5 linked regions of the Homo sapiens genome follow. The protein of the gene in region 2 purifies or fractionates together with the protein of the main gene of each other region. This does not show direct contact. Each region holds a gene or a part of one and is shown on either strand. Other genes may lie near its edges.

The links.
Region 1: the proteins of ANXA9 (region 2) and PADI3 purify together in Homo sapiens (affinity purification with mass spectrometry; one large-scale study listed by BioGRID and IntAct). This does not show direct contact.
Region 3: the proteins of ANXA9 (region 2) and ACP3 purify together in Homo sapiens (affinity purification with mass spectrometry; one large-scale study listed by BioGRID and IntAct). This does not show direct contact.
Region 4: the proteins of ANXA9 (region 2) and CRYBG1 purify together in Homo sapiens (affinity purification with mass spectrometry; one large-scale study listed by BioGRID and IntAct). This does not show direct contact.
Region 5: the proteins of ANXA9 (region 2) and CLMN purify together in Homo sapiens (affinity purification with mass spectrometry; one large-scale study listed by BioGRID and IntAct). This does not show direct contact.

What each region holds. Positions count from the first base shown.
Region 1 is NC_000001.11:17,272,388-17,277,194, reverse strand, and holds part of PADI3 (protein-arginine deiminase type-3), read right to left. Parts: intron 3,856-4,807; coding exon 3,748-3,855; intron 2,561-3,747; coding exon 2,409-2,560; intron 677-2,408; coding exon 532-676; intron 422-531; coding exon 319-421; intron 1-318. UniProt on the Homo sapiens protein: Catalyzes the deimination of arginine residues of proteins.
Region 2 is NC_000001.11:150,988,396-150,993,202, forward strand, and holds part of ANXA9 (annexin A9), read left to right. Parts: intron 1-4,807. UniProt on the Homo sapiens protein: Low affinity receptor for acetylcholine known to be targeted by disease-causing pemphigus vulgaris antibodies in keratinocytes.
Region 3 is NC_000003.12:132,322,673-132,327,479, forward strand, and holds part of ACP3 (prostatic acid phosphatase isoform PAP precursor), read left to right. Parts: intron 1-4,807. UniProt on the Homo sapiens protein: A non-specific tyrosine phosphatase that dephosphorylates a diverse number of substrates under acidic conditions (pH 4-6) including alkyl, aryl, and acyl orthophosphate monoesters and phosphorylated proteins.
Region 4 is NC_000006.12:106,358,688-106,364,273, reverse strand, and holds the start of CRYBG1 (beta/gamma crystallin domain-containing protein 1), read right to left. Parts: upstream 3,558-5,586; 5' UTR 3,366-3,557; coding exon 3,193-3,365; intron 1-3,192. UniProt on the Homo sapiens protein: May function as suppressor of malignant melanoma. It may exert its effects through interactions with the cytoskeleton.
Region 5 is NC_000014.9:95,197,909-95,201,408, forward strand, and holds part of CLMN (calmin), read right to left. Parts: intron 1-3,500.

The sequences.
Region 1 (4,807 bases), about 130 Mb from region 2:
AAGGGAGATTTCAGGATAGTGACTGCAGAACATTAAAGCTCCACGCCGTGACTGCACTGGTCACCTGCCTGGGAAGCCACTATGTCCCCGCTCAGTCCATGTCCACCTTCTATCACCCCGCTTCCCACCTCAGCTCGGCCCCAGCTGTGGGCAGTGGTGTCTGGTGAAGCAAGGTGTGCAGGGGCAGGAGTGAGAAGCCCTGAATTTGGGGACACACCCCTGCTTTAAAACTTGCCCTCCCCCTCTCAAGCCATGATGTGTCTTAATTTGGGTAAGGGGCAGGCAAGCCGCAAGGAGGGACACGGCACTGTTACCCACCAACAACCCCCTGGAACAGGAGGGCCCTCCCGTGGCCACACTTCTGCTTTTCCTGGAAGAGCTTGAAGCAGGCCCCAGGGCTGGCCAGGAGCATCCGGAAGCCCTGCGTGCAGAGAACAGATTCAGCTGAGCCTCCTGCCTTGGCATGGCGCCCTGGAGCTCAGTTCTTGCCCCAGATGCCAGGGAAAGACACGTCATGCACGAAGTTCTTACCTTCCCATCGGGGGCAGGGACAAAGCTCAGAAACTCATCCACATGGCCCACGGCCAACCAGTCCACAAAGAGCTCCACGGGGGGCTGCACCTTCTGGGCATGGAGGAAGTCCCGCACCACCTGGGTGACCCTGCGGCCACTTGACCTGGGACCCACGAGGTTAAAAAAAAAGTTGCTTAACTAAAAAGACTCCATGCAGAAATAAAATGACAAGAGTTTAGCATTCCTGCAATATCTGATTTTTAAAAAACAAAAAAACATGCATTACTTTTATAAACAGGAAAGTAATAAATATGTATATTTCATTTTATTTATTTATTTATTTTTGAGATGGAATCTCACTCTGTCACTCAGGCTGGAGTGCAGTGGCGTGATCTCGCCTCATTGCAACTTCCGCCTCCCAGGTTCAAGGGATTCTCCTGCCTCAGCCTCCCAAGCAACTGGGATTACAGGCGTGCACCACCAGGCCAGGCTAATTTTTCTGTATTTTTACTAGAGATGGGGTTTCACCATGTTGGCCAGGCTGGTCTCGAACTCCTGACCTCAAGTGATCTGCCCGCCTCAGCCTCACAAAGTGCTGGGATTACAGGGATGAGCCACTGCACCCAGCCAGATACGTATATTTTAAAATTCCACTTAGGGTGAGTTCTGCATGAGGCAGACTCAGGACAGGTCAGTCACACCAGGGCAATGACCTACCAGGTCCCACCATCCAGGAAAATCTTCAGAACCACCCTCACACCAGGTTCTTATTCTCCAAGAGACAGATTTCACCCCCATGTTCAATTTTTACGAAAATGTATCTAAGGGCATGGTCCAGCTTCCTCTTTCAATGGGATTATGTATTTGAGGGCAGTAGTCCCTTCCAAAGCTTGACTCTGGATTCATTCATTATTTGATCCCAAGTCTGTTCTAACAGCTTTGTTGCATTTGGTTAGCTCAATGTCTTGGTCTAGTCCACAGCAAGTAACCAATATGATAGGATTCCTTTTCCATCAGCACCCCTGTGTCACTACTGAACAACACATCATTTGTTACTCTCTCTGTATGTTATTGTCATTTCACTTAGCATGTCTTGTACCTCACTTCTCTTGCTCTCAGGAAAAGATCTTATATTAGTCATTTACATGGTAGTATGAACAAGCTTTGACCTAAATGCATTTTCTCCCAGGACTGTTGGGAATGGAAACTTTTTCTTTGTTACTTTTTTTTTTTTTTTTTTTTTTTGAGACGGAGTCTCGCTCTGTCGCCCAGGCTGGAGTGCAGTGGCATGATCTCAGCTCACTGCAAGCTCCACCTCCTGGGTTCATGCCATTCTCCTGCCTCAGCCTCCTGAGTAGCTGGGACTACAGGCGCCTGCCACCACGCCTGGCTAATTTTTTTTTTTTTTTTAGTAGAGACGGAGTTTCACCATGTTAGCCAGGATGGTCTCGATCTCCTGATCTCATGATCCGCCTGCCTTGGCCTCCCAAAGTGCTGGGATTACGGCATGAACCACCATGCCCACTCTTCTTCTGTTACTATTAATTGACTGTTACTAGTATCATCTATTTATTTTCAGAATCAGAAAACTTGAGTCTAGTTATAACTTTGCTTTCTATGTGACTCACTTACCCTCTCTGGGCCCACTTGTAAAATGAAAGTGTTGGACTGAATGATCTCTTAGGTCTCTGCTCTCTCTGGTTTCAGAGTCCCCGAGGTAAGTGTGGACTGTGTCTGGTGAACACCCACCAACCCCAGCACATCCGGGAGTATAATTTCATCATTCCTTGCTTCTGGCTCTCTTCAAGGAGTGCAATGGCCCCTGCTCCACCATCATCACCACCCCCAACCCTCAGCCTCCACCCCAGGAACTCCATTCCCTGTCTCTCTCTCACCCAGGCAGGTTGCCCCCAATGAGGATCCTCCCCAGGGGGTACTCTTTCCCATTGGCCACCACTGGAGGGCTGACCTCCAGGTTCCCAAAGGAGTCCAGGCCACTCACAGACCTGTCGCGTGGTTCCCGAGTCACGTAACCAAAATCTGGACCCTGGAGAGGGAAACCAAGTCAGGCGGGGGTGGAGGGTACCAGGAAGGGCCTGAACCAACTTGCTGGGCTTTGAGCTCCTTCAAGACAGGGTGGGAAAGGCCATCCATTCTTCAGGTGGAAATACAGAGTCATTGGCGGTGGGTGGGGGATCTGACCCAGTCAATATTTCATGCACGCATAGCAGGCAAAGTCGGGAAGTGCTCGGACTCTCTGGCCCTGCTGCCTTATCACGGCAAGACAGCAGGGGGCGCTCCGGTTGCTCCTGCACTCCCCATCGGACATGGAGCCTGAGGCCATGGCCACTCCATCCCCTTACCTACACAGCCTTCCTGCAAGTTCAGCCCAAGGGCAAGTAGCAGCTCAAGTGGCCAATTGTGGGAACCAAGAGGCTGCTGATGGCCCTCTGGGCCTCTGTCTTTGAACTCTAGAGAAGGGGAGACCTCCCCAGGGCTATCTCTCAGAAGCAACTTCGACAACATCAAGGGTCAGGAGAGAGAGCTCCTAGCATCTGTGTGATCAGTGAGGGGGTTGGAGGGGTCTCTTGTTCTTTACGGCACCAGGCAAGTCACTCTTGTTTTCTCAAGAGGTCCTCGTTAGCAATCATCACCTTCCCTGTTATCCTTTTTCTTAAAATAATGATACTAGCTAATAGTGGTGCGCGCACACACACTCCCTCCATGCAGGTACTGTGATGATGAGATGCTTCACAAACCCCTGTGAGGCCAGGGCCAAAATGTCATTTTTACTGATGAGGAAACTGAGGCTCAGAGAGCGGTAGTAACTCACGCAACATCACACAGCATGTAAGTAACGGAACAGGGTTGGTCTGACCCTAAAGCTTGTGCTCTGAACAGGTGCACCATCCTGCCTCCCCTATTTAGGGCTGCCAGATTCAGTAAATAAAAATACAGGATGCCCAATTAACTTTGAATTTTAGATAAACGACAACTTTTTTAGTGTAAGTATATCCCATGCAATATTTGGGACGTACTTACACCAAAAAGTTAACCTGTTGCTTGTCTGAAATTCACATTTGACTGGGCATCCCTGCATTTTATCTGGCAACCCTACCCTCATCCCTAAAGAGCACGGTTCCCACTGCTGCCCTCTGTACCCCACACCCCGGTGTGGCCCCTGGGGTAAGGCCTCTCAGCTCTCAGGGGTGGGCTGCGGCCGGGACCACTCACCAGGATTCTTTTGTAAGGGAAATCCTGCAGTTCCCCATTCCTTGGGGAGTCAAAGACCACCGGGAGGGTCTTGTGCGGCGCCTGAACGTAGCCCAGCTCCATCTCATCCTGCAAGTGAGGAGAGGCGAGAGACGCACAGCTGTGACAGTCAACAGCTGCCCCTGCTGGCTCGGCTCTGAGCCCTGTGGGGCAGACTGCTCACCAAGTCCCCTGGCCCAAGCATGTTTTGTGCTTGGAGGCGGACAGGACCGAGGTCAGGGTGCCTGCTGACTGGAGGAGGGGCTGGAGGCTCAAGGAGGGGGTGCACTTGTCTAAGGTCACACAGCAAGACAGAGGCCGGAGGTGAACGAGAACATGGACATGACCTTGGGGGTGTCCCTGTGAGTACTGGGCCAAGGCAGGTGGACACAGAGAAGCACTCACAGTGGCCTGAGTTGGATCCATAAATGTGCCCAGGTCAGTCCTGACCCCTCTGGTTCTGGAGGAAAAGATGGCCCAGTGTGAATGAACTTCACATCCAGGTCCTGCCCTAAACTCTTTATAAACATTAACTCCATTCATCCTCATGACATGCCTGGGCGTGGGCACCATAATTATCCCATGTGACAGATGAGGAAAATGAGGAACTAAGAGGTCTAATTATTTATCCAGTCCGGGCACGGTGGCTCACACCTATAATCCCAGCACTTTGGGAGGGTGAGGCGGGAGGATTGCTTGAGGCCAGGAGTTTGAGACAACCCTGGGCAACATGGCAAGACCCCATCTCTACAAAAAATTAGCTGAGCCTGGTGGCTGCACCTGTGGTCTCAGCTACTCGGGAGACTGAGGCAGAAGGATCACTTGAACCCAGGAGTTCCAGGCTGCCAGTGAGCTGTGATCATGCCATGGCACTCCAACCAGGGTGACAGAGAGACACTGTCTCCAAAAAGAAAAATAAATTCAAAATATATTAATTTAAAAAAATAAATAAAAATTAAAAAATATTTGTCCCAAAGCTCACAGCTAGTTAGTTGGTGGCACAGCCAGGCTCTAAACCCAGCCCATCGTGCCCCAGAGTCCT
Region 2 (4,807 bases):
AGTCTCAGCTTGCTGCTTATGTAACCATCCTATATACACCGTCTAAACCTCAAGCCGCTCTCCTTCCCAGGGCTTACACACCAGGGCTTACACAGGGGTGGAGGAATGAGCTGTGGTGAGAACTAACTTAGTTGGCTCCCAGGGGCCCTGAAACTAACATTTTGGCCTTGTTAATGTCTAGGTGGCCAAATAGAGATATGAATCTGCTCTGTAAGACAGTGCCTTGTGCAGGCTTAGTTGTTGCCAGAGTGATGGTGATAACACTAGCAAGAATAATGACAAGGGCTGGCATTTTGCAGGTGCTGATTGTGTGCCACAGCCTATCCTGAGCAGGGCACACATATTTCAATTAATCCTCACAACCATATCCATCCGTATCTTATAGATGAAAAAACTGAAGCCCAGAGAAGTTAAGTACCTTGCTTGAGGTCACGTAGCTAGTAAGTTATACAGTCTCCCTACACAACACTTCACGATGTAAGATATTGACCATCCTTGTCAGCTATACGATAAGTGCTCTTAGCACCCAAGGCCCCCTTTCTCCACGCTGGTCAGATTTTGTTCCACATTATCCATACTTTTTTTTTTTTTTTTGAGATGGAGTTTCACTCTTGTTGCCCAGGCTGGAGGCTGGAGTGCAGTGGCACAATCTCGGCTCATGGCAACCTCCGCCTCCTGGATTCAAGCGATTTTCCTGCCTCAGCCTCCCAAATAGCTGGGATTACAGGCGCCCGCCACCACATTATCCTAATTTTTTGTATTTTTAGCAGATGCGGTTTCACCATGTTGGTCAGGCTGGTCTCAAACTCCTGACCTCAGGTCATCAACCTGTCTCGGCCTCCCGAAGTGCTAGGATTACAGGCGTGAGCCACTGCGCCCAGCCCATATTATCCGTACTTAAACTGCTGACTGTGGCTTGAGTGCTTCCACCAATAGAATCCAGTTATTCTGTTGATTGAATTAGGTCTCCTATTAGTAGAACTGTCCCCCAAAATCTATAAATAAAAAGTTCAGGAAGGGCGCAGTGGCTCACGCCTATAATCCCAGCACTTTGGGAGGCCAAGGTGGATGGATCACTTGAGGTCAGGAGTTCGAGACCAGCCTGGCCAACGTGGTGAAACCCTGTCTCTACTAAAAATACAAAAATTAGCCAGGCATGGTGGCAGGCACCTGTAATTCCAGCTACTTGGGAGTCTGAGGCAGGAGAATTGCTTGAACCTGGGAGGCGGAGGTTGTAGTGAACCAAGATCACGCCACTGCACTCCAGCCTGGGTGACACAGTCAGACTAAAAAAGTAGTTATCATTTTGGCAGATGGAATAGCTTTCTGTAGACTGGTTGAGAAGCCATCATGCCATGTTGATGATTGCCCAAAAGTTAGTAAATATAAGCAATTGTTCTGTCATCTAGAGATTTCTATCTTGACAGTAGATTATTATACTTGCCCAATAAAGCCTGTATGATTATAATGAGTCAACACTAAGATTCATTTGAAGAGTTGTACTTATCTGTCCAAATTCCTGTCATAAATACAAACTATCCCAGCAGTAGATGATTTTGTAGTGTATTTGGATTACAAGACCCACACTCTTGAGTGTAGATAAAAGATTTATCTTAGAAGTAGTAGTCAGGGGCCAAGCATGGTGGCTCACACCTGTAATCCTAGCACTTTGGGAAGCTAAGGTGGGAGGATCGCTTGAGGTCAGGAGTTCAAGACCAACTTAGGCGACATAGCAAGAACTCGTCTCTACAAAAATAAGAAGAAAATTTGCCAGGCATGGTGGCACCTGCCTCTAGTCCCAACTACTCAGGAGGATGTGGTGGGAGGATTGCTTGAGCCCATGAATTAGAAGTTACAGTGAGCTGTGATTACTCCACTGCACTTCAGCCTGGGTAACAGAGCAAGACCCTGTCTCAAAAAAAGAAAAAAAGAAGTGGTAGTCAGAAAATAACATAGGCCCATTTTTCTGAAAAAAAAAATTTTTTTTTTGAGATAGAGTCTGGCTCTGTTGCCTAGGCTGGAGTGCAGTGGCGTGATCTCAGCTCACTGCAGCCTTCACCTTCTGGGTTCAAGTGATTCTCTGGCCTCTGTGTCTTAAGTAGCTGGGATTACAGGCGTAGGCCACCATATCTGGCTAATTCTGAATTGTTTCTAAAAAGGAAAAACTCGGGCTGGGCGCTGTGGCGCATGCCTGTAATCCCAGGACTTTGGTAGGCTGAGGCGGGTGGATTATTTGAGGCCAGGAGTTCAAGACCAGCCTGGCCAACATGGTGAAACCCCATCTCTACTAAAAATACAAAAATTAGCCAGGGGGTAGTGGTGAGCGCCTGTAATCTCAGCTACTTGGGAGGCTGAAGCAGGAGAATCTCGAGCCTGGGAAGCAGAGGTTGCGGTCAGCCGAGGTGACGCCACTGCGCTCCAGTCTGGGTGACAAAGTGAGACCTGCCTCAAAAAAAATAAATAAACAGGCCAGGCGCGGTGGCTCATGCCTGTAATCTCAGCACTTTGGGAGGCCAAGGCGGGCGGATCACGAGGTCAGGAGATCGAGACCATCCTGGCTAACAAGGTAAAACCCTGTCTCTACTGAAAATACAGAAATTAGCCAGGCGTGGTAGCGGGCGCCTGTAGTCCCAGCTACGCTGGAGGCTAAGGCAGGAGAATGGCTTGAACCCAGGAGGCGGAGCTTGCAGTGAGCCGAGATCGCGCCACTGCACTCCAGCCTGGGCAACAGAGTGATGCTCCATCTCTAAAAAAAAAATAATAATAATAAATAAATAAACAAATATAAAATAAATAAATAAGGAAAAAATCATGATACATCTGTATTATTCTTTTTATTTATTTTTATTTTTATTTTTTTAGATCGAGTCTCACTCTGTCGACCAGGCTGGAGTGCAGTGGCGCGATCTCGGCTCATTGCAACCTCCGCCTCCCGAGTTCAAGCGATTCTTCTGCCTCAGCCTCCCGAGTAGCTGGGATTACAGGCGCTCACCACCATGCCTGGCTAATTTTTGTGTTTTTAGTAGAGACGGAGTTTCACCATGTTGGTCAGGCTGGTCCTTAACTCCTGATCTCGTGATCCACACGCCTCAGCCTCCCAAAGTGCTGGGATTACAGGCCTGAGCCAAGGTGCCCGGCCTTCTTCTTCTTCTTTTTTTTTCCTTTGAGATGGAGTCTCACTCTGTCGCTAGGCTGGAGTGCAGTGGCACGATCTTGGCTCACTGCAACCTCCACCTCCTGGGTTCAAGCAATTCTCCTGCCTCACCCTCCCAAGTAGCTGGAACTATAGTTGCCCGCCACCACATCCGGCTAATTTTTTTGTTTTTAGTAGAAACAGGGTTTCACCACGTTGGCCACGCTGGTGGCAAACTTTTTTTTTTTTCTTTTTTAAGATGGAGGCTTGCTCTGTCACCCAGGCTGGAGTGCAATGGCGCGATCTTGGCTCACTGCAACCTCTGCCTCCTGGGTTCCAGCAATTCTCCTGCCTCAGCCTCCTGAGTAGCTGAGATTACAGGCGCCCGCCACCACGCCCGGCTAATTTTTGTATTTTTAGTAGAGACAGGGTTTCACCATGTTGACCAGGCTGGTCTCAAACTCCTGGCCTCAGGTGATCCACCAGCCTCAGTCTTCCAAAGTGCTGGGATTACAGGCGTGAGCCACCGTGTCCAGCCTGTATTATTCTTTTATGAGAGATATGTAGATATATGAAAACATAAATTGTGAAGAATATTTATTCAGAAAAACAACCTTCAGAAAATCAGCAATGGCTGATTCAGGACAAATTTCCACCAATCTGTAGTAAAAATTAATGTTCCTGGTGAAGATCCTAGGGCCATATGCAATGCCAGGTATACGATTAAGTATTATAATTAGGCCAGGCATGGTGGCTCATGCCTGTAATCCCAGCACTTTGGGAGGCCAAGGCAGGTGAATCACCCGAGGTCAGGAGTTCGAGACCAGACTGACCAACATGGTGAAACCCCGTCTCTACTAAATATACAAAATTAGCTAGGTGTGGTGGTGTGCACCTGTATTTCCAGCTACTTGGGAGGCTGAGATAGGAGAATTGCTTGAACCTGGGAGGCAGAGGTTACAGTGACCTGAGATCGCACCACTGCACCCCAGCCTGGGTAACAGAGTGAGACTCCATCTAAACAAACAAACCATATATATATATGCTGAAGCGAGCAGATCACTTGAGGTCAGGAGTTTGAGACCAGCCTGGCCAACATGGTAAAACCCCACCTGTACTAAAAATAAAAAAATTAGCTGGGCGTTTGGCACATGCTATAGTCCCAGCTGCTTGGGAGGCTGAGGCAGGAGACTTGCTTGAACCTGGGAGGCGGAGGTTGCAGTGAGCTGAATTCACGCCACTGCATTCCACTCTGGGTGACAGAGCAAGAAAAAAGAATACTTGTACAACAATGAGAGTATTCAGTTAATGAGTGACTCTTGCCCAATTCTGTAACTTTAGAGTAACAAGCGTTGGAAGAAGAGAAGAATGGATACTGGGGAGCAATTGGCAATCTTTATGACAATACAAAACTAATGATGCATAAAAGTTAAAATGAAGTAGACATTAGGTCCACTGACAATTAGGTAATGAGTCTAAATGAATTGGAGCATCCTGTTTTACTTCATTTTCTTTTGTTTTGTCAAAGGAGTTTATGATCTATTGGGATGCCCTAAGTATGTGTTGTAGGCAGTTCTGGGAAGAGTCTTGTGAGTAAAGTGACTCAGGAAACTCTGAAAATGAGGATATTAGGAATTGATGACAACACTGGTGCACAGAAAAAAAAAAACACAG
Region 3 (4,807 bases), on a different chromosome or scaffold from region 2:
AAGCAGACTCACTGTTCTAGAAGCAAAGGCACAAATGAATAGGATAGAGACTGCTACAATTTGAATGTTTGTCCCCTCCAAAACTCATGTTGAAACTTAATCCCAATGTAACAGCCTTAAGAGGTGGGGCCTTTAAGAGGTGATTGGGCCATGGGGGCTCTACTCTCCTGATGGATTAATGGATTAACAGATTAATGGATTAATAGGTTATCACAGAAGTGGGTGAGTTATCATGTCAGTGAGTCTATCATAAAAACCATTTTGGCTCTCAGTGTGCCCCTTCTTGTCCTGTCATGCCTTCTGCCATGTTATGACACAGCACAAGGCCCTCACCAGAAGCTGACTAGATGCAGCTGCCTGATCTTGGACTTCCTAACCTCTAGAATTGTGAGCAAAATAAACCTCTTTCCTTTATAAATTTCCCAGTCTCAGGTATTCTGTTAAAGCAACAGAAAATGGGCTAAGACAGAGGGGAAAGACAAGAAGATGAAAGAAAGGAAAAAAAAAAAGCACACATAGCACACCTTGCTGATAAATAAGGATGATGATCAAAAACCCTCATGAAATGAGAAGATTGGAAAGAAATCCATAATGTACCTGGAAGTACTAGACCCAATCCGAGATTCACCTGTTCATCAGAACAGGCCTTTTTTGCATATTACTATGTTCCAGGCACTGTTTTGGGGTTATAGCAGTGCTTGTGACAGCAAGGCTTCTGCTTTCAAGGAGTTTCTAGGGACAGGGAGGGAGCCAGATTTTTTTTAATTTTAGTAAAAACAAAAAATAAGAAAACATCAGGAATATTTATTTGAAATAAAACAGTGAGATAAGATAGAGATTGAGCAAGAATTATAATGATGGTCAAGGGATGTCTCTCTGTAAAGGTCAAATTTTCAGGACAGACCTCAAATTGATGAGTGGTGTGTATGCTGAGAGAAGACGCAGACTTGAGACATTCAAAGCAGACAGGACATCAAGAGCAAAGGCCCTGAGGCTTCAGCAAATTTAGTATATTGGATGTAACAGCAGGAGGGCCCATGTGGGTAAGCTGAGGACATCAAGGTGAGAATATCAAGGTGGGTAGGGACCAGATCAGGTAAGATCTTGTGAGCCCTTGTAAGGACCTTTAATTTATGCAAAGAGCAATAGAACATGATATAATATCTAAGAGTGATGAGGATATAAAAGAAACAAGACTAGCCACATACAAGTTGATAATTGTTGGAGACAGTGGTGGGCTCATGATAAAAATCTCCACTTTTAGGCTGGGCACAGTGGCTCACGCCTGTAATCCCAACACTTTGGGAGGCCAAGGCGAGTGGATCACCTGAGGTCGGGAGTTCGAGACCAGCCTGGCCAACATGGCGAAACCCCGTCTCTACTAAAAATACAAAAATTAGCCAGGCGTGGTGGCAGGTGCTTGTAATCCCAGCTACTTGGGAGGGTGAGGCAGGAAAATCACTTGAACCTGGGAGGCAGAGGTTGCAGTGAGCCAAGATCATGCCATTGCACTCCAGCCTGGGCAACAAGAGCAGGACTCCATCTCAAAAAAAAAAAAAAAAAAACTCCACTTTTGTATATCTTTACATTTTCCACTGGATATAGCCTCGACTGTACTCACCAGGTTCTCCACACCCTAAGCCACATGCCAGATTTGTTTAGCAGATTCAGTGGAGCAGGTTCATTCATGGGGGCACCAAACCAAAAGTCCTTTTAAAAACAGTTACCTATGATTTAAAAGTGTGAAGTGATTGTAGTATGATGGGGAAACAGTGGGCCAACTATCATGAGAATTAGGAGATCTGGACAGCTACATGATCTCTTTGATCATATAGTTTTCTTACTTGCTCAGTGCAGCAGTAGTGCCAACCTGTCCTCAGACGGGGATGTAATAATTAAAAGAGGTAGCAGGGGAAAATTCTACAAACCATGGAGGGTTGTGCAAATGTAAGGAATTATTATTTTTTTTTATTTTTATTTATTTATTTTGAGACGGAGTCTCACTCTGTCACCAGGCTGAAGTGCAGTGGCACGATCTCGGCTTACTGCAACCTCTGCCTCCCAGGTTCAAGTGATTCTCCTGCCTCAGTCTCCCGAGTAGCTGGGACTACAGGCATGCGCCACCACACCCAGCTAATTTTTGTATTTTTAGTAGAGATGGGGTTTCACCATGTTGGCCAGGATAGTCTTGATCTCCTGACCTCATGATCCGCCTGCCTCAGCCTCCCAAAGTGCTGGGATTATAGGCATGAGCCACTGTGCCTGGCCAGGAATTGTTATTATCTTGGATGTCTTTCTATTACAATTACCACTACTACTGCAAAAATCCTAATTGCTAATAAAGTATTTTTAGGTTTTTAAAGGATTTCATAGAGTATGATTGCTGGACTGAGCACAGAGGTAATAATTGGTAGAGCAGCAGTTAAGAAGATTGCTCTACCACAGAATTAAAAGAATGTCTTCGCATAGTCCAAGAACTCCAGCTGAATTTTGAAACTCCAAAAGCTCAAGGAACACCAGCTTCACATTTGCCTGCGGGAGGGGTGTGTGCACACATTTTGATTTCCAGCCCTGGAAGTGGAGAATGGTTTATTAAGTGTTTCTCCAGGACATCCCTTCCAAAGGGTTGACAGCATGTTTGAGCAACTACCTTGGAAACACTTAAAACCTACTGAAATGTAGGGGAGTACAATTATTTCTGAACTATGGGCCAGAGTGAGAAAGTTTGCCCAAGTCTCATGATTATGTTCCAGTTCTCTGCTCTTCAAAACACTCTGCTAAGGTGACCACACTTGTTTTTCTCTCTCAGGCCATTCTGTCATTTAGTTGCATAACCTCAGTTCTATTCTTTCAATAATATACATAGTTCACAGTGCCTTCGGGGTAGTTTCCGTATCAAGGTTTTGGTTTCTTCTGATACAAAACACACACACACACACACACACACCCCTTCCAATCCTAGAGGAAAAGAGTATACTAAGTAGAGTTAATAAAGAAGCGTTAGATCCCAGACCATTCAGATTTAGCTGGTGGGACTGTGAGGAGTGTGATCATACAGAAATGAACCTCTCACAGGTGGTTAAGTATGCTGGAGTTGGAGGCACAGCCTGTGTTTGAATATCAGCTCTACCACTTCTTACATGCTGTGTGAGTTTAGACAGGTCACTTAATTAAGCTAAACTTCCTCATTTGTGAAATGGAAATAATAATAGTAACTGCTTTGTGGAACTGATGAGAAGATTACATCTATGAGAAGCACTTAGCACAGTTTCCAGGACAAAGTGAGTGTTCAAAAAATGTTAAGGAGTTACCGTTGTGGTTATAGGTTGGTGGGAAGCAATGTAAATTATTTTATTACAATGTCTCTCACCTGACTTCTCTTTGGCTAACTCAGTGGCTCTCAACTTGGGGTGATTTTCTGCCCCTATGGCAGAAAATGTGCCTTTTTCAGTTGTCACAGCTGGGGAATGTTACTGGCATCCGGTGGGTAAAGGCTAGGGATGCTGCTAGACATTCTACAATGCACAGGACAACCCCCACAACAAAGAATTATCTAGCCCAAAATGTCAACAATGCTGAGGTTGAGAAGCCCTAGAAACTAAAACAGTGTGGGGTTTGTAATTTATTGAAACCATGTAACAACTTTAGTTATTCAAAGACACATTTACCTGGGATATAAAAACTCTAAAATGTACTTCAATTGTGGAAAGAGGCATCAATGATTAACCATAATCATTTCTGATCATGACCAAGTCACCCCTGAGACTAGTAACTGCAGGTGCTCACAAAAAAATATGCAGCTGTCCTTCCTGCCTTCAGGGGATCATTCATGAAAGTAATTTCTCACCTGACCAAAATGATCGCTTAACATTTATTGCATCATTGCCCCTGTTTCTGTAGACTACTCTACCGAAGTTTTAATTTGTCACTAGTTTAAAGGGCCAAAAGATCTGTTTTCTTCAGATATTAGAGACACAAACCAAGCATCTCCCACTTTCTTGGAATTCCTTCTCAAAAATGACTAAAGTCTGAGACTGTTTTCTTATTTAATGTCTATTGAATTCTGTTTTACAGAATTTCAAAAGAGCAGGTTCTTAGCTTACTTTTCAATGGAACATTTTAGCCAGGTAGTATAAGTACAGGTGCGGGTAACCTCAGATAAATCAAGGTGTTATGCAGCTGTCTCTATATTAAAAATATTTGCTGACATCAGTGTAGACTTCATCTTGTAGTTCTTCAGTGTTTTCTTTCCTTATCTTTTGCTCATAAGATGGCTTTGTGTTTGGTTTGATATTATACTGAGAAAGCATATTAGAATCAAAGCACCAAGATTTCAAAAGTCCAGACTACTCTTCCCAAAGAGAAATGTGCAATCACAATAGCATGACATGGGTACAAATATAGAAGTATGTTATTAAAGTATTGAGAATTAGCTTTCCTAACCTCCCCACCTGCAATCTTTTACTCCTAATCTCCAAAAAATGAACAAATCATTGGCTCAAAATGGTCACAAATTGTATGTGGTGTTAAAAATCTATTATTTTTATTGTATATAAAATGTTGCCAGGTGTGGTGGCTCATGCCTGTAATCCCAGCACTTTGGGAGGCCAAGGCAGGTGGATCACTAGGTCAGGAGTTCAAGACCAGCCTGGCCAACATGGTGAAACCCCATCTCTACTAAAAATACAAAGATTAGCTGGGTGTGGTGGCGTGTGCCTGTAATCCCAGCTTCTCGGGAGGCTGAGGCATGAGAATCACTTGAACCTGGGAGGCAGAGGCTACAGCGAGCCAAGATGGTGCCATTGCA
Region 4 (5,586 bases), on a different chromosome or scaffold from region 2:
CTCACCACAACCTTCATCTCCTGGGTTCAAGGGATTCTCCTGTCTCAGCCTCCTGAGTAGCTGGGATTACAGGTGTGAGCCACCATGCCCAGCTAATTTTTTTGTACTTTTAGTAAAGATGAGGTTTCACTATGTTGGCCAAGCTGGTCTCAAACTCCTGACCTCAGGTGATCCACCTGCTTTGGCCTCCCAAAGTACTGGGATTAGAGGCGTGAGTGACCGCACCCGGCTGGACTGGTAAACTTTTCTAGGAAAAGATCTTCCTAGAGTTGGTTTTCCCCTATCCAAACCTATCTTTTCCATTTCTTCCATTAGACCTTTGCTTTGATGATGATGATGATGATGATGATGACCAGGATGCTTTTGCATTTACTGAGTTTCTACTTTGTGCTCAGAAGTGTGTTAAGGTTTTTGCACTTAATAACATAAACTTTCATTTAATATTCATGACAACCCTACAGAGTCAGCATCCTATTGTCTCCATATTACAGATGAGGAAATTGAGATTTTAAGAGGTGAAATAACTTGCCCAAGGTCACAAAGCTAGTAGATAAATTCATTTTTTTCTGACCTAAACACCCATAATATTAATCAAATAAGCAAATATGGGTGGCTACCTGACTGTCCCCTCCTTATTTAGAGACAAAAACCACAGTGAGTGCTGCACATTCCAGCCAAATTCCATCACTTCCAAGTCCTGGACAGAAATGAAGGGATATGGTCAGGAGGCTTAAGAGAGCCACACTGGGCAAACTGGCTTGAAATCTAAGGGTGCTTTTGCCACTCTCTTTAAACCAGAAAGAAGTACACTCTCTTAGAAGTAAATGAAATATTTATAAAGATGATCTAACTAGAAAAACATCCCAAAGACAGACTAGTACGTTTAGTTTTTCAGAACATTTATTAATACGAAGTTCATCACGGTTCTGAAGGAAAAAATGAAGTGTTTCAAGACTGCACTAAAATATAAAAAAACTCAAGGAGAGAAGCAAATCTCCTATTTTAATTTTTTTTTTTTTTTTTTTTTTTTGAGACGGAGTTTCGCTCTGTCGCCCAGGCTGGAGTGCAGTGGCGCGATCTCGACTCACTGCAAGCTCCGCCTCCCGGGTTCACGCCATTCTCCTGCCTCAGCCTCCCGTGTAGCTGGGACTACAGGCGCGCGCCACCATGCCCGGCTAATTTTTGTATTTTTAGTAGAGACGGGGTTTCACCGTGTTAGCCAGGATGGTCTCGATCTCCTGACCTCGTGATCCGCCCGTCTCGGCCTCCCAAAGTGCTGGGATTACAGGCGTGAGCCACCGCGCCCGGCCTCCTATTTTAAATTTTATACTAAAATGTATTTACATTTGAATAAATTACCTATAGCTGTGTATTATTATGTTTTGATAGACAGTAAATGATAAGACTAGATCTTAAAAGGAAAACCACGATGGAAATGTTTAAAATATTTACTGAGGTAATAGAAAAGAACTTCAATGTTGGGTACATTAAATACTGTATTTTGTTAGAAAGTATAATCTATAATTAGGCACAGTAAACGTTTGAATAGGTAATATATTTCTACTACAACTGATTACCAATGTGGATGATAAAATATGAGAGAAAAATAAAATGACTTCTTTCTTAGGTTTCCTACCCTTACCCACTCACACCTAGACCTCCCCGCTGCAACCACTTGCGCTTCTCAGGAAGTGCCACGCTCTTCTAAGTGCTGGTGATGTGCACAGTGCAGCCCCTGCCTGGAACTCGCTGCTCCTCCCTGTTTCTGCCTAAGCCACTTCACCTATCCTCCTCCAGGAAGCCTCCCTGATCCCCTCCTGTGTGCTGGCATCTATCATTGCATTTTTTGGTATCCACAAGAGACTAACAATTCTTTGATGACACAATTATTCCTGTCTCTCATTGTTTTTTATATCGCAGTACATGGCACTTAGCTAAGGTACTCAATACAATAAGTGAATGAAAATAGATCGTAAAATTGACTTTTTTTACAAATAAAAGGAGAGGCCGGGCGCGGTGGCTCATGCCTGTAATCCCAGCACTTTGGGAGGCCGAGGCGGGCGGATCATGAGGTCAGGAGATCGAGACCATCCTGTCTAACACGGTGAAACCCCGTTTCTACTAAAAATACAAAAAATTAGCCGGGCGTGGTGGCGGGCGCCTGTGGTCCCAGCTACTCGGGGGCTGAGGCAGGAGAATGGCGTGAACCCGGGAGGTGGAGCTTGCAGTGAGCCGGGATTGGGCCAGTGCACTCCAGCCTGGGTGACAGAGCAAGACTCCGTCTCAGAAAAAAAAAAAAAAAAAGAAAGAAAGAAATAAAAGGAAAACCATGTCTAAAATGCAAATTTTGCACAATTTTATTCTGGCCCTCATAGGGTGTATTTTAAAAACACATTTGGAAGGATTTACTGGACATTGTCAATTGTCCATCACTATAAATATTTCACACCTCTGAGCCATGTAAATACGCTGTTACTTCAAATTGATTATTATTCAACGAATGCATAAACTCTGATGCTATAGTTGAATAATTATACATATAGAATAAAACCACTTCAAAACCATGATAAAAATCAAAAAGCACAATGGTAACTACAGTTTTGATAACTAGGTGCTCTCTAGCTCTGCCACTGGCTCCAATGGGGAGAAGCCATTTATCCTTTGGTCTCAGTTCCTCCACCCATGAAATGGGGGTAACCATTCCTGCCACTTCCTCCTCCCTTCGTATGTTGCGAGGAGAATGGGGGTATAACATCTGTAAGAGCACAGATCTTACAGATATTCACAATAAAGAGCTTTACAATAAAGACACTAGCTCAAAAGCAGTGCCTAACCCCAAAGCAGAGTTCCCGCCATCATTTAGGACGGTAACAACCCTCACTCCCCGCCGCTCTGGTTAGCAGGCTGATGCGGGAGGCTCCTGCATGAAAACTTTGCAGTCATACTAAAGGCCACATGCGTGGGCACAAGTTCCTCTCGCCGGTGCTTGGTCTGAACCAAAAGCCGCGAGGAACCTCGTCAACCCCAGCGGCTACGATCGCTCCCCTCCGGACCCGGGTACCCTCCTGCGGACTGAAACAGACCCCGGGGCTTTCCCCTCCTCCAAGTGGGGTCAGGAGTCCAAGGGCTAGCGCAGCAGGAGAAGGAGGAGGAGGAGGAGGTGGGACTGGAGGGCTCGGGCGAGGAGCTCACCTGGCCTCTCCGGCAGGCGCCGGGAGCGGGTGCGGAACGAACACCCCACAGTCAGGCGGCGCCGGCTGCTGCTTCTTTTTGGAGCGCCAGAGGTGGAAGGTGGTGTGCTTCTTAGGGGGCCTGCACGGGCTGGGCTCCCCGGGGTCGCCCTGGGCTGGCGGGGACAGCGGCATCGTCTTGTCCTCCTCCCGCTCCGACTGCCGGGACGCGGTCCTCTCTGCCGCCCGGGCCCTATGGAAGAACACACCTGAGCGCCAGCTCGCCCGCCTTTCTCAGCGCGCCGTGGGACCCCGCCCCCTCGTCGCGGATGCGGGGGGACGGCCGCGGGTTGCAGAACCAGCACCCAGCGCAGCGCGAGCAGCACTGCAGCCCGAGCTGTTGGGGCGGAGGCGGGGACCCAGCCGCGGAAGAGCGCCCCCGCGCGGCGCGGGCGGCAAGGGGCGCTAGCCCAGGTGAGGCGCTCGCGCCGGGAGCCCCAGGTGAGGCAGACACGCCCCGGCTCCCCACCCCGGGGGCGCGCGGCGGCCGTGGGACAGCGACACCTACTGGATGCTCTGGGCACCGCGACTCCCGACACTGCATCCCAGGCTCTAAGATGGGACCCAGAGCCGGGTCGGGCTTCCACAGCGCCTGGGGTGCAGCGGCCATTGTCGCCTGCGGAGTTGTTGGCCGCTCTTGGCCTGTGACAGGCTGGCAGGGTGAGTCGCTGCTTAGCCACGAGCCCCGCCTGGAGAAGGATGGGAGAGGCACATCCCGGGGCTGGGCCGCCCAGCAATTAGGACTCTTCCACTCTGATCTCTGGGTGGCTTGGGCAATGTCATGTGCTGGTGGCTTCTGTTCCTGTTCGTGAACACGGGTGGCAACTCCGCCAACTCGTCTCCTCTCTCAAGAGTCTGAATAATTAATTTGTACTCACATCTCATAAAACACAAAAGGATTAAAAAAATTAAAAACGCCAGAAGGGAATTAGGCATATTCCCCAATTCCCCAAGAGCTTAATAGATCCCTCGCAGTAAATTAAATGCCAGTCCCACAAGGTATTTACATCATCTGCATTACTGTTGATGACTTTCTTGTCTTAACTTCACAGTCGTGGCTAAATAGCAAAGGAAATTAATACTTAAGCAAAGTAAGTAAACGAACAATTATTTTGGGCATCATTAGAGCAAAGAAAGTGCAAGAACTAAGCACTACTTAAAAATTCAATGCAGTACAAGATCCTCTTTCACGGTAATGTCTTTATTTTCCTCTTTGAAAACACAACTCATTCATTCGTTTATTCACTCATTCAAGGAACATTCATTTTTATTTGTTTTTATTTACATTTTTATCAAGATGTAATTTATAGACAGTAAAATGCACAAATCATAAGGGTAAAACTCAAATTTTTACATATTTATGTGGTTGGGGTGTGAAAAGTTTTTTAATGGAGAGTTGACATTGTCCTAGAAAATTCTTCCGTATGTGGCTTTTAAATGTATGATTATAGGCCAGGAGCGGTGGCTCACGCCTGTAATCCCAGCACTTTGGGAAGCCGAGGCAGGCAGATCACTTGAAGTCAGGAGTTTGAGACCAGCCTGGCCAACATGGTGAAACCCCTTCTCTACTAAAAATACAAAAAAAAAATTAGCTGGGCGTGGTGGTGGAGGTGCGCCTGTAATCCCAGGTACTCGGGAGGCCGAGACATGAGAATCGCTTGAACCCAGGAGGCAGAGGTTGCAGTGAGCCGAGATGGCGCCACTGCACTCCAGCCTGAGCAACAGGATGAGACTATGTCTCAAATAATAATAATAGGTAAATATATATGATTATAAAAATATAGAATACTTTCAAAACTTTAAAAATCTCCCTACTGTCCTCTTCCAGTACATTACCCCTCCCACCTGTAAAAGTTAACCATTATTTCATCCTCTTTTGCTGGAGATTAATTTGACCTTTTCTGGAATTTCATTTTAGTGGAAAATCACAATATGTACTCTGTTTCTGGTTTGCTTTGCTCAATATTAGTCGGTGAAAATCATCTATATTGTTGCTTATATTGTAGCAGTTTTTTGTCTTGTTTTGTTTGAGACAGGGTCTCACTCTGTCACTCAGGTAGGAGTACACTGTTACCATCACCTCTCACTGCACTCACTGCAGCCTTGACCACCTGAGCACAAGTGATCGTCCCACCTCAGCCTCCTGAGCAGCCAGGACTACAGGCACACACCACAGGACCGGGCTTTTTTTTTTTTTTTGGAGGGGGTACATTTGTAGAGACTGGGTTTTTCCATGTTGCCTAGGCTGGTCTCGAACTCCTGAGCTCAAGTGACTTGTCCGCCTCAGCCTCCCACCAAAGTGTTGAGATTACAGGGGTGAGCCCCTGCACCTGACCCATAGCAGTTTTTCATTTAA
Region 5 (3,500 bases), on a different chromosome or scaffold from region 2:
GCCCTCATCAATGGTCAAATGCTACTGTTTTTGAAAGATGAAACAAGCAGAGGGCTTATTTATTTTTTCAAGATCAGAAGAAAAACTTGCCATTTTCTAGTCCCTTTGGCTGGGAAAATATCTTTTTTTCTTTCTTTTTTTTTTTTTTTTTTTTTTTTGAGATGGAGTCTTGCTTTTGTCTCCTAGGCTGGAGTGCAGTGGCTTGATCTTGGCTCACTGCAACCTCTACCTCCCAGGTTTAAGTGATTTTTCTGCCTCAGCCTCCGGAGTAGCTGGGATTACAGGCACCTGCCACCACGCCTGGCTAATTTTTGTATTTTTAGTAGAGACAGGGTTTCTCCATGTTGGCCAGGCTGGTCTCGAACTCTTGACCTCAGGTGGTCCACCCACTTCAGCCTCCCAAAGGGCAGGGATTACAGGCGTGAGCCACTGCTCCTGGCCTCTTTTTTTTTTTTAAAGGAAGGCAAGGTATCAGAGAAATGCCTCATCCCATCTCCTTGTCTGCCAGGACCCAAGACTCCCAGACCTCACCTTGGGCTCCTCATCAAACGGGCTGTACCCTCCCCCTACGCTCACCCACACGGATTGAGGCAAGGGCTGCACTTGGGAGCAAATTGCAAGGTGGGCTGGGGATCAGTGGGCAGTGCTTGCTGGGCAGGTGAGGCAGCGGACCGGAGCCAAGTGAGGCAGACGGTGTTGATTTCATTCCCACACTGCACCCAAGGGAGCTCATCTGCCCACGCTCTCACCAAGAGTGAGATCCATGTAAGATGGAGTTCAAATCTAGATCTCCCGATTCTACCACTGCAACCCAGGGCTCTTTCAGCCACACCGCAAATCACCTGTCCAAGTGCTGGACACATGCACTCTCTGCTTTTGGCAATTGCTGGAAGGAAAGCATTCGAGAACAAACTGCCACATTTGTATTTTCACAGGCCACATCCAATAGGCCAGGAGGGAGGATGCAAACCACTAATTCATCATTTTATTTTATTTATTATTTATTTATTTATTTATTTTGAGACTTCAGAGAAGTCAGCACACAGCAGGCCATGGAAGCAAGTGGAGGACTGGGTTCCTCTCCCTGGGGGAAGAGGGGGAAGATGGCAGCCGTGGTCCCTGGCACCTGCAGAGCCATCCAGCCCTCTTCCCATCCATTCCACGGTTGGCAAACACGGAGTGTGCAGCCCTGCCCATGTGGCCCTCGGCCTGAGGATGCTGCTCCTCCTAGGGCTTAGGTAGCCACTCCTCATTGCTCAGATTTGGCAAACTGAATAAAACCAGCCCCCCACTTCTGGCCTAGCTAAAATCTGCAGTGTCTTTTAGGACGAACCTGATCCCTTATATTAATTTCCCTTATTCTCTTTATTGGCTCAACTAATCTTCTAGGTCTTCTACCCCACTCATTCACACCAACTACTCAACTGTCAATAAACTTAAACTTAAAAAAGACTACTCGAACCAGACTTTTTCTGTAGCTCCCGCAGGGTGCAAGCCTCTCTCAATCCTCCAATCAGCTCCAGTCCTTTGGGCCCCTCACTGGGCTCTGATGAGCCAGGGCTTTGTCATGTATCTCAGTGTTTCATTTACCTTCCATTTGCTGTATGCCCCCGAAACCATCGTGTAATAAACCTTTGTCCCCTACACTGGCAGGCCCTGTCAGGCACCGTGCTGGTCTCTAGCATCCAAAGATCAATACACAAATGTCCACACTCTCTCGGGAGAGAAAAACAAAGCCCATGGAAATCAGGTAAGCACTCAAGGAGAGATTGTCAAAAATGTGATCAGCTATAGGGAGGGAGCAATGGCTCTGCCTGGGGAGGAGGTCGGAGGGCTTCTGGGAGGAGGTGCCATTTGCATTGACTTTGAAGGTTGAATAACTGCTTGCCCAGATGGTGGGACCAGCCCAGTCACACCTGGAGGCAGAGGAGAGCCTGGATGTCTGGGGGTGTGGGAGGATGCTGGCTTGGCTAGAGGGGAGGGAGACAAAGAGGGGTGGGTGGCCAGGTTAGAGCGGGAAGAGTCTTGGAGTTCATGCTAAGACATTTAGACTTTGTCCTGGATGCAGCAGTCAGGAAGTGATAAGGTGAGACTTGTGCTTTAGGGTCATCCCTCTGCAAGCTGAGCTGGGGAGGAGGGACAGTGACAGACTGGGGAAGGGTCTGAGATAGAGGCAGAGCCAATGCAATCTGAAATAGCTGGTCACTTTCCCACCTGGCTCCTGCACTTAGGGGACCTCTACCCTTAGTCCCTCTACCCAGAACTTCCTCCCCAGTTCTAGGCTCCCCAAAACCCCCATGCAGCCTTTCTGGATCTGGGTGGGAGCCTCCTTCTGTTGAACTCCTGAATCCCTTCGCTGGGCCCATCTCTAATGGCTGAGGCCACATTCTCTCACAGTACAGTTACTGGGGACTCTGTCTCCCGCATTAGACACCGAAGGCAGGATTTTCCTTCTTTTTTTATCTTCCTGGCAGTGCCAGATGCATCGCTTTCCATGGGGTTGGATGAGTAAGCAGGTGAGCTCATGGAGGGGCTGGAGAGGCCGAGCCCAGGCCCTTCTCCTCCCTGGCTGTCTTGCCCTGGATGCCCTGTGTGCACTATATCCAGCAGGGCATGGCCAATGTGGTTTCGGACTCACCTCCTGGATCCCCAGTGCCGTAGCAGGACGCAGCACTTATTAACGTGGCATCTGCAGGAGGAGCCTCCCCATCAGGCCAGCCGCCCAGGCACCCCCCTTCACTGATCACTCCAGTGGCCCTTTGTGAGCTACTGGGCCAGATGAAGTGGGAACACAAGTGGCAGATAAGAATGTGACCAGCTGCTCAAGCTCAGAAGAGCGCATGTCCCCTTATGCTATTTACACACCAATTTCAAACCACAGAAACCAAAGATTAGTGCCCAACAGGCAAAAGTCCTTTAAAAAAATCAAAACTGGAGTCAAACATGAGGGCTTCTTCTGTTTCTCCTAAGTTACTGCAGAACAGGCTAGTGTTCACTAAGTGCATGCTAGATGTTAGCTACGATGACTGTTTTTTTCTTTAACTTTCTAATGCCTATGTTAGTGGTAAGTTATGAGAGAACATCACATACCGGGGCCTGTGGGGGTCGGGGGCTAGGGGAGGGATAGCATTAGGAAAAATACCTAATGTAGATGATGGGTTGATGGGTGCAGCAAACCACCATGGCACATGTATACCTATGTAACAAACCTGCACGTTCTGCACATGTACCCCAGAACTTAAAGTATAATAAAAAAATTTAAAAATATATATATATATATTTTTTGTTTTTCAACTTTTATTTTAGATTTGGGGGGTTCATGTGCAAGTTTGTTATGTAGGTATATTGCATGATGCTGAAGCTTGGGGTAATTATCTTCCAACCCCCCAAGCAGCCGTGTCAGCTTGGAGACCCTTGGGAGTCACAGCGAAGAAGGCCTGGATTTCCAGCCCTCCCCACCCCTCTCAAAGGCCTTCCATCATTCCCCACGACCCCTTCTA